Homo sapiens: one gene and its partners. The protein of the gene in region 3 interacts with the protein of the main gene of each other region in a pairwise test. Each region holds a gene or a part of one and is shown on either strand. Other genes may lie near its edges. The genes, in order: CD53, TIMMDC1 and ST6GAL2.

Region 1 (3,600 bases), on a different chromosome or scaffold from region 3:
TGCATTTTAGAAGGCTCTCCTCCCTTCTTCCTGAGGACAGACTGAAGAAACATCCAAGGTGGTCTTGAAGGACACTGGGATCCTGTAACACAGGTAAAAGATAAAGACTAATGTAATTTCTATGGGGTTGGAGAGAGGTGGTCTGGTTTGAGAAATATTTAGGCAAAAGCATAACTGACAGGACTTGGTGGCTGATAATAGGTGGTGGTGTGGGAGAGAGAGTAGCTTAAGAGGACACCTGGTTTCTCATGAACGTGGCTGAAAGGCCAGTCAGGCCTTTCCTGGATGGTGGACATGGTGGGAGGAGCAGGCTTGAGTGTGGGGATGCCAAGTTAATCAAACTGAAGTTGGATATTGGATTTGAGGTGCCTGGGAGAGAGTGGAGCTCAAAGGAGAGATCATGGCATCTATATAGATTTGTGAATCTTTGGAACAGACAGATAGTAATTAGAGCCATCAGAATGGGTGAGATAATTAGGAAAATATGAGTTCAGCCAGAAGCCTCTCCTCAGCCCCACCACTTCAGGGACCTGTAAGCATGGCAGCAGCTCTGAGTGAGGGTCAGTGATTCCAGCCGAGGTGCAGAGACTTTTTAATAGCATTCCCTAAAGTGTAGTTACACTGAAAAATTGTTCCCCAAGAGAAACTACACACACACACACACACACACACACACACACACCACACAGTTCCATGCTCAGATAAGTTTGGAGAAATCTATATATTATTTCCCCTGCTTAGAGAATATTAAGGACTGACAAGTTCTGCAGTAAAGACCTTTTTACCTTCATTTAATTCAGTTTTCCCCACAAGACAGCCCTGGCTGGAGATTACTCTGGATCTGAATGTCTCAGGGTGAAGGAAGCGGGAGACAGCTAGCTTTCCCAGAGGCATGCCCGCAAGTCAGCACCGCAGAGTGCATCTATCTGTTCATTTATAAGATGAAAACATTGGGGCCCAGTGATTGCTTCCAAGTTTCATAGTTAGCTAGTGATACATTTGGGTTGTCACATACTCCTTTGACCCAATCTAAGAAAATTCCAGTGATGCAGCATAGTGAAACCAGAAACACATTTTTCAAAATATATTGATCACAGTGTTTCTCAAAAGGCCTTCTCTGTGACCTTGAATTTTAATCCTACCTCTGACATGTCTTAGTTGTATGAGCTTGGGCAAATTTTCTAACCTCTTTGAGCGCCTGTTTTCTTGTATATAAATAAGGATGTAACAGTAACCAGTAGGATTATTATTAGGTGTTACCATTAATAAACTGAGGCTGACAGATTGAGACTTGCTCAAGATCTCACAGCTAAAAGAGATAAAGCTGGAACTGAAACTCAGATCTTTGGCTCCAAATGTGGTGTTTCCTGTACTAACCAAATCATTTCTACCAGTGCCCCTGGGATTATGCCTTGGGGACTCACCTTAAGACAGTCTTGCTCTCGAGACAGAGAAGTCTGCAAATGGTGTCCAATTCAAGTCTAGAGACTGGCTGAAGCCAGACAGAGGGAGTATGAGGAGGGGGCAGAGAATCTTCAGAAAGACATTCCAAAGTCTCGGGCCTAGAAAATGTTTAGAAATATTGGTTCCTGTGTTCCCCTCCAGTCTGTCTACCTGAATGGGAAACTGGTGGTGGGGCCAGGCATACTTCTTTTTGAACAAATACACAGTTAATTCTGAGATGCCACCTTGATTGAGAAGCACTGTCCTTTTCTAAGCAAAAATCATTGCCAAATTACCCTAGAATCCACCACTGCTCACAGATCTGTGCCTGAACCAACTTGGTTTTGAAGTTTTCTTTTGTTTCACAAAACTAGTTTAGGGTGGGCTGTGAGAGGAAGCTTCTAAAAAGCCACTGGGAAAGTACTAAATCTCTGAGACTAAAGAGGGCGGACTCAGCCTCACTTCCTCCTTCTTCTCATCTGGGCTTCCTGTCGTCACAGCATGATCATATTTTTTCACCCTTCACTTCTCCTTTTACACAAATAGCCCCGGATATCTGTGTTACCAGCCTTGTCTCGGCCACCTCAAGGATAATCACTAAATTCTGCCGAAAGGACTGAGGAACGGTGCCTGGAAAAGGTAAGGTTGATGACGTTTTAACTTGGCTTGCTGTCTAATGTGGGGTAGGGCGTATTCTTAGGGGTCTCCATATACCTCTCTAGTAACCATAAAATCTCCGGCAACTTCTCTTTCACAAATATTTAGTGCACAAAGTAAAACAGATTAGCAAGATCCTAGTAACATCCCCAAAGGCAATCAGGCCAGAAATACTTTTACTTAATCAGGTTCCCATTATCTAAATCTCTGAGTCGAGGCATTCACATGCCTTAATTGCTTCAGAGCTTGAATTACTCTGTGTAGTAATTCCTGATGCCTGGAGCTTTCTATGCGAGATGACATTGGGGAGATTTCCTATGTGCTCTGGTCTTCAGAAAATTGGTCTTGTGATTTTAAAGTGAGGAAAGAACCCACAGCCAGAGCTGTCTTTAGAAAGACAGCTAGAAGACACAGTTCTTTTTCATTTGAGAAAATTTCAAAAGTAAATTTAGTGACTCCCACTGTGGTTCTTCAAAGCCACTAAATAGAAAGGTGGCTAAAAATCAAAACACCAGGATGTGCTCAGTAACTGTATTTTAAAAGGTGAAAGCTAGACATCTCTAAAGGATGCATAGATTGTTGGCTTTTAAGGAGCAGGAAGCACATTGGGATCCTCAGCATTTCCCCAAATTATCCTTGGTGTACAAAACATGACCACTGATAAATGTCACATGAAATGCACGTATAAAATGCAATCCCCAAAACTTGATACTGCAGTAATTTCCAATCATGTGCTGTAACTAATGACTGAGGTTGCATGGACTCAGCAAAGTGTTAGCAGAGCTTCGGTCCTGACTCTCTGTGACCACCATCGGAAACTCTATGTAAGAGCTTTCTTCTTCCAAGACCTGTGAGAATTTCACTTGATTATGCCCTGGAGCAGAAAGGAGAAAGTTCTCTTTGATTACACCCACCCATCTAAGTATGAGGATTGGGAACAGGGCAGAGGGCTCTAGATTTCCAAGAGGGGTGGGGACGGGGAGAGGGCTCTGGATTCCCAAAACACCTCAGAGTTTATTGAGCCTTGTATTAAAAAATAAAAAGCAGTCTTTTAAATAAATTCACTTAATAATCAAGTGGTAGGTGCCTCCTGAGGCCAGGCACTGTGCTTTGGGAATTGTGGGGGAGGGAGATGAAAAGGTAGAAGGAGAATATTTGTCTAGCAAACAGTCCTACTCTTAAGGAACTCCCATGGGAGATAAGAGATATCATACTATGCGTGTGCTTTGGAAGAAAGCTGAGAAAAAGCAAACTCCCAGCTGCTGGACAAACAAAGAGGTTTTGCTTTCTCAATCTTGAGGAGAATCTGTACTATTTTGAAATTGTGGTTGAATGGGAGCAAAGACTGAACTGAAACATTATTTCCTGTGATGTTTCCTGTGTGGGCCAGTTAAGAACACTTAATTTTTAAATGAAAGGATTGGGTACCTTTATATTCATGAGGAATGATTCCAAGTTCATGCCTTCACAGCTATGGTTACCACCACCTAAGTGACCTCA
Region 2 (3,274 bases), on a different chromosome or scaffold from region 3:
CTGCATGTTCTGTTGCTCATGTGGGAGCTAAAAAATGGGCTCATAGAAGTAAAGAGTAGAATTATGGTTACTGGAGGCTGAGGAGGGGACAGGGAAAGGCATAAGAAGAGGAGATTTAAGGGATTGATTAATGAATACAAAATTATAACTAGATCGGAGGCATAAATTCTAGTGTTCTGTGGCACTGTAGGATGACTATAGTTAATAATTTATTGTATATTTTCAAGTAGCTGGAAGAGAGGATATTTGAATGGTCCCAGCAGTATGAAATGATAAATGTTTGAGGTGATGCATATGCTAATTACCCTGATTTGATCATTACACATTGTATATGTACAAAAATATCACTTTGTACTTCATAAATATGTACAATTATTAGTATCAATTTTAAGACAGATGGATAAAAACAACTTGAATCATAGTAATGAAAGAATACTTTGGCAGAATGAAAGTGTCAAAATTGTATAGCATATACACGTATGGGTGTTTGTGTGTGTGTGTGTGTGTGTGTGTGTGTGTGAGATATTTCTAAGGAGAGTTAATAAACGTTTAAGTGTCTTGTATGTGCCTACTTCTTCGCTTGAAAATAATACAGGAAAATCAAACAAATTGAGAGTCAAAAAAATTGCCTCAATGAGCAGAAAATGTAGAAAACTGACTATAGAGATATAGAAGAACAAATGACCAAATCTGTGAAGAGTTGAGAAGAAACTTTAATCCCGATAATCACTTAAGGAAGACACTAATACTTGATTTAGAAACAGAACTGATCTATTATTTGGAAATTAGTTTTTAACTCTTCATAAATATAAATCTATAGTTTTGTTCTATCTGACTTTTCTCTACCTTGGATTACCATTGTTATAGCCTTTGACCAGTTCCTAAAAGGTCTGGTCACAGAGTTTAAGAGTGGCAGGGTACTTACATTCCCCCAGCCCTGGGAGCAAGAGGACAGCGAGACTTCAAGCCTTCACACCTTAGCACAAAGTGTGTCAGTTCCCACACATCACTCCTGTGAGAACTCTAGGACCCAGCATACTAGGAATATCTTATGGATCAGAGCTGTCACCACAACGGTATCCATTATGGTAATGTGGAAATCATAATTGGCTTGTGAGGTTAGGAGAGAGAAGAAAGTTACTGTATTTGAAGTTCAGGGAGCAGTATTTGCTTCTAAATTGCTATACCAAAGCAGGGAGGAAAAGACAAATGCTATCCTTTTTGTTTTAAATCTGTAAGAACTAAAGAAATGGAGCAGTATTTGATTTATCCTTTTTATCTGATTACAGGAAAGGCAGACTACAAGTTACTGAGCACCTCCCTGAGAAAATTGAAAGTAGTTTACAGGAAGATGAACCTGAGAATGATGCTAAGAAAATTGAAGCACTGCTAAACCTTCCTAGAAACCCTTCAGTAATAGATAAACAAGACAAGGACTGAAAGTGCTCTGAACTTGAAACTCACTGGAGAGCTGAAGGGAGCTGCCATGTCCGATGAATGCCAACAGACAGGCCACTCTTTGGTCAGCCTGCTGACAAATTTAAGTGCTGGTACCTGTGGTGGCAGTGGCTTGCTCTTGTCTTTTTCTTTTCTTTTTAACTAAGAATGGGGCTGTTGTACTCTCACTTTACTTATCCTTAAATTTAAATACATACTTATGTTTGTATTAATCTATCAATATATGCATACATGAATATATCCACCCACCTAGATTTTAAGCAGTAAATAAAACATTTCGCAAAAGATTAAAGTTGAATTTTACAGTTCGTATATTCATGTGGTCCTTTGAAAGGGTATTCTAGAAATCACTGGAAAGAGGAGAGGAAAGAACCAGGTAGGCAAATGGTCTGTGAAACCCTTGGGTCCTGGAAGCAGTGTGAGTGTAAATGTGTAGTGTTTGGTTTCATCTAAATAAACAAAGATGATTTCTTTGACACTTGAAATAAAATACAAATTCAACAAAAAGTAGATCAGCATTATTAAAGAAACGGTTCAACTTTGTTTCTTCCCTTAGTATTGCTGACAAAGTATCTGCTGTAGAATACAGGAATTACTTAGAATAGAAACATAGTCATCACAACTGTTACTAAATGGAAAAGAAAAGAATTATTGAGTTAAGTATTCCTGTCAATACGGGAAACACTGCTAGTACCTTATGTTGGTGTTAGACCTCTCTGCCCTACACTGAGAATATAGTTTTACACAGGAGCAAGGTTTGTGAAGCAGCATAGTGAGGTAGCTAAAGCCATGGGCTGGCTCTAAAGGCTTTAAATCCCAGCCATGTGGCTTAGCTGCCATGAGATGTGCATTTGAGAAATGTTGTCTTCTTTTGCTGTTCAACTCCAGATTTTCAGATGATAATGTGATTATCCCAGCTTAAGTTGCGTCCACTTCTGGTCTAGTGAATTGTGGAAGGCAGTTTTAGAGAAAGGAGTCATGAGTAACATGAACAGCAGTTGGCTATGTCTTTCCAGTTCTCTGCTGATGTCAGAAAGACCCAGAAATACCAAGGAGAAAAAGCCATCTTAGGGATCTAAGGAGGCCCTATGGAAAGTTACTACCTTAGACATTTGAAGATAGCTTACTGCTTAGTACATACACTGTAAACAACGATCTCATTTTAAATGAGAACTTTCTCATAAATATTTTACAAATGAGGTCAAACTAGCATAAAGCCATTTAAAGAGATTATCAGTCCAATATGAACCAGTTAAGTCTTTGGACTATCCCTTTCCTCCTTGACTACTGCTTTGACGTACCTAAATCATTCGTCTTACATGTCAGAGGAAATTAGTTTTGGATAGTTCTCCTTTCTGCTGTACCTCATGGGGGAGTGAGAGAGCAGCAATAGAGAACACAATGAAAAAAATGGAATACTGGGTAAACACCAATAATATTTCCATTAGTCTCCTAAAGATGTTCATGCCATACTTCCTATGCATTACATTGGGCTTTTGTAAACAGCAGCATAAAATCTTCTACTCTGACATTAGGAAATCAGATAGTCTCTGAAGTTGACCTGTTATTGGACAAATTCTACTTCCAGCAGCACTTTGCCTGACATATATATGTATATACCAGTTAACAGGCCACAGTCAAACTGATAAAGGGAAAGAGCACCAGAGTTAGGAAATCTGGGTTCTGGCGCTGGCCTTTATAATTCGGGTCACCTCCCTGGGCCTCAGTGCCTTTGTCATTAATAACACTGGTATTCTCTAAAGTCCCTTCCAGAACTCAAGAATTCTGCATTTCAAAACACCTTGATCAAGGTCAC
Region 3 (3,830 bases):
GGTTCACGCCATTCTCCTGCCTCAGCCTCCCGAGTAGCTGGGACTACAGGCGCCTGCCACCGCGCCCGGCTAATTTTTTGTATTTTTAGTAGAGACGGGGTTTCACCTTGTTAGCCAGGATGGTCTCGATCTCCTGACCTCATGATCCACCCGCCTCGGCCTCCCAAAGTGCTGGGATTACAGGCGTGAGCCACCGCGCCCGGCCATAATTTTTCTTTTTTTAAAAAATATCTGTGTAACACATTGTTCATTCAGGCAGTTCCGCAGAATTCCATGTGTCAGACATAATTAATACAATTGGGGAAATACTGAGTAAGCGTTTTCGGCCCACACTTTTGTTTGAACACAGTGCATTATACCCACTCGATTTTAGTTTAATTCCCGTGCTGTTTTACATTTCTGTAAACTCTTTGAGGGAGTTCTGGGCGCCCACTGTCTAGCTCAGAGTTCCAGGCTAAGGTAGGCACTAATGAATGCTGAATGAATTGGGTAGCCAGTTAATTGCTTTTTCCCCCCTAAAAAAAAAGTCTAAATTACTTGAATAAAAGTATTTGCGGATTTTTAAATAATACATTTAATGGCAGATCTCTGTCTCCAAAACGTGTGTCCTTCTAGCGACTGAGGGTGTGGGGTGGGGTGAGGGGTGACTAACCAGTCCCCCTGAGATGGGCCCAACCTTAGCAATATTATCCATCTACCTGGGATTCCCCTACACCTGAACAGCTCTTTGGGTCCGCGAGAGAACCAGCGGGGTGGGGCACCCAATGCCAGGAGTGCGCGCGGAGAGACACGCTGAAGTTCACAGGAGAGTATTTACCAGCAAACAAAGGGCGGCGCGGTTTGGGGTCCTAGGACCAGCTGCCGCCGTCTCGAGAAAACGCAAGGGCCGCGGTGACAAGTGGACATTCCGCACGCGACCAGACCGACACTCGATGGGCACCTCCCCGCGGCCCCGCCCGCAGGCTCCAGCTGCCCAGCTCGCAGCCGCCCACTGGCTCCGGAGGCTGCTTCAACCACTTGTCCCGCCGGCTTCTACCCCAAGAACTTTCCGTCCCTCTTGGGGTTGGGGACCGGCAGTGTGGAGGGGCGGGCAGGTGGGGGTCTCCAGGGAGCACCGTCACCGGACTTGGCGAGCTACCCTTCCCAAATGAAAGGTGGCCCGCTCCCAAGTCCATCCCATATCCTTAGAGAAGCTCTGGGAGCGAGGGCCAGGCGGCAGTGCGGAGCCTGGTTGAGCGAGATGAACAAAGGGAGCTAGCGAGCCGGGGAGGATGCTGCGCTCCCCTGCGCCCCACCCAGCCGGCTGCCAGGCGCTGCCAGGCGCGCAGGTAGCCCGGCCTTCCGCGCTGGCGGGGGGAGGTGTTGGACAGGGTACACAAAGACTCACTTCCGCCGGGGCAGGCGCCGGGACTCCCTCCTGGCCGCCCACAGCCTGTGCGCATTCCTGCATTCCTGCCGCCGCCCGGGACCCGAGTGCCCCGGAGGTGTCCAGGCGCGGTGCCAGGCGGGTACTGTGCAGGTAACCTTCGGAAGAACTAGGGCTGGATGGAGGCGGCGGCCGGGGAGAAACACGCCTTTTTAGGCAGCCGTGCTGCCCCGCACCGCCCCACGCAGCCCAAGTCTGCAGTCACTCTCCGCGACAAGCAGAAATCCGCGCGCAGCCAGGGAGCGCCCCGCCTGCGCTCGCCGGCGGGCCGAGCTGCCGGGCCGGGGGCGCGGGGAGGGGGCAGCCCAACTTCCCAGTGCCCGGCTCCCGCCAGCTAGGTGAGCCTGGAGCGGGAAGGATGAAAGGGATCGCGGAGAGGGAGGGGGCTCTGGGGCGAGCGGAGCTCGGGGGCGGGGCGCGGCGCAGCCTCGGTGCGTGGGCCGGGAACCGCCGCCTCTCCCCGGGGCTCGGGGCCGCGGTTCCTCTGGCCGCGGGAGCCGCCGCCGCGCTGCCCGAAACAATGAGGCGTGCAGCGCGGGGCTGAGCGTAGCCTCCCGCCGGCTTTGAGGCCGAGCCACCCGCTGTGCCCCGCCGCCCGCGCTTGCAGCTGCCGCCGGCGCGGAGCAGCGCTGGCCCCGGAGAGGTGATCCCGCAGGCCGCCTGGGACGGGAGCGCGGGGCAGCTCCGAGACCCCACGGTGGCAGGAGGAGGACTCGAGCCTGCGGCAGGACGACTCCCGCCGCGCACTCGCCTTCTGCAGCCCCCAAGTTCCGCGGCGTGAGTCGGGGACCCCGGCCAGGGTCCCAGCTCTAGCGGGCGCCAGCGTGAGTGTGGGAGCGCGTAGCGCGCGCACCCGAGCGGCTGCCGGGGAATAAAATGTGACACGCACGCCTTGGACTCCAGTGCCGCGCTGCCAGGGGGAGCACCGAGCACCACGGTGTCGTGCGCTTCGAGGCGCGGCGTGGGAAGAAGGCTGGTAAGGGAGGGCACTGGGTAAGGGTTGGCGACGCCTTTCTTGGTGGCGCTGCAGCCTCCGCGCTGCTGTGCGCGGAGTTACACTCCGTGTTTAGGAGCGAGACCCGTGTGTGGGGAATGTTGAAGGTGGTTTGGGGAAAAGCAGGAAATTCTGGAGAAGCGAACGGGAGGACGGCTTGCGCTTTGGGGACGGGCGGATACAGTTGTGCCCCTGTGGCTCAGTAAAGGTGATCTTTTATTTTGGCTCTTTTGGCTCTGGAAGGGAGTGAAGATTTTTGTCTTTCTTCAGCCAACCCCCGTACAAAACTGCACTTCTTAAAGGTTAAAGTGTGTTCTGTTCATTTCTGGTTCTCTGTGGCTATAATGTTTGGGGTAGTAGGGATCTTTAGAATCCTAAATACCCGAGTGTTAATTCTTATGTAGTTGGCAGGCGGCAAACTCCGCTTTTGGGTTTACTTTCCGCGGTGTTACGGAGTGGATATTTGATGCATTCTTTTGAGTAGGGAGTGTGACGTCCATCTCATTCGGATTTGCCGGTTCTGTGTTGGGGGACTGAGTGAAGTTAAACTCAATGGCTCCCGCAAGTGCTGCCTTCCAAAGAGCTGAATAGCTGTGTTTGGAGAAGCTGTGCTTTCCAGGAATTTAAATGAGACTTTTTGTGATTGCCTTCCAGGTCTCTCCTCCTAGTACCATATTTGTTTTGTCAGGCTGAACTTTCAAAGCTGTTTTGTAATCTGAGAAGCACTTTTGGGGGGAAAGTAATGCTTGGCTGGATTTTTGTGAACTTATTTTTATTGGACATGCGAAAAATTTGGCGAGAGGCAAACCATATTTGGTTGAAATCATTGTCTTTTGCACCACTGCCGTTCTGACCATAAAGGGGCATGCTGACCCTCCTCGCCGAGGACTGCCTGCTTGGGTGAGGGGGGTCTTTGGTGGGCTGGAAGCACATTTTGTATTTAGAGAACTTTCTGCACACTTGAAAAACCCCATGCTGGTTACTTTGATGCTTCCCTTTTTTGAAATTCTGATCAACATTTTTTGCCAACTTGAAATATAATTTATGACCAAGGAAGAATTCCAATAAAGTGAAGTGCTATATATATATGATGTATATGTATATACATACACATATGTATATATGTGTGTGTGTGTATGTATATATATATATATATATATATATATATGCGCTGCAAATTTAGGGTTAAAACTTTTTTTAAAAGGAAAACTGATGTGTGGCCTTGAACCTGTTTTTACCCACTCTCCTTCCCCCATTATTTTTCTGGAACTGACAACCAAAATTTTTATATACCACTTGAGGAATTTTGTACTAATGCATTAAAAGAAACTGTTGGCAAAGGTGAATGGATATTGTGCTCAAAACTGATGAAAGTCTAAAATAATAGGTGAAGTGCCTTGAATTTTACTG

What was found.
Region 1: the proteins of ST6GAL2 (region 3) and CD53 interact in binary tests that used the Homo sapiens proteins (3 or more experiments, as listed by UniProt).
Region 2: the proteins of ST6GAL2 (region 3) and TIMMDC1 interact in binary tests that used the Homo sapiens proteins (3 or more experiments, as listed by UniProt).

Annotation. Positions count from the first base shown.
Region 1 is NC_000001.11:110,871,167-110,874,766, forward strand, and holds the start of CD53 (leukocyte surface antigen CD53), read left to right. Parts: upstream 1-1,981; 5' UTR 1,982-2,082; intron 2,083-3,600. UniProt on the Homo sapiens protein: Structural component of specialized membrane microdomains known as tetraspanin-enriched microdomains (TERMs), which act as platforms for receptor clustering and signaling.
Region 2 is NC_000003.12:119,522,317-119,525,590, forward strand, and holds the end of TIMMDC1 (complex I assembly factor TIMMDC1, mitochondrial isoform 1 precursor), read left to right. Parts: intron 1-1,289; coding exon 1,290-1,440; 3' UTR 1,441-2,774; downstream 2,775-3,274.
Region 3 is NC_000002.12:106,884,665-106,888,494, reverse strand, and holds the start of ST6GAL2 (beta-galactoside alpha-2,6-sialyltransferase 2), read left to right. Parts: upstream 1-2,327; 5' UTR 2,328-2,402; exon of another isoform or gene 2,403-2,628; intron 2,629-3,258; exon of another isoform or gene 3,259-3,320; intron 3,321-3,830. UniProt on the Homo sapiens protein: Transfers sialic acid from the donor of substrate CMP-sialic acid to galactose containing acceptor substrates.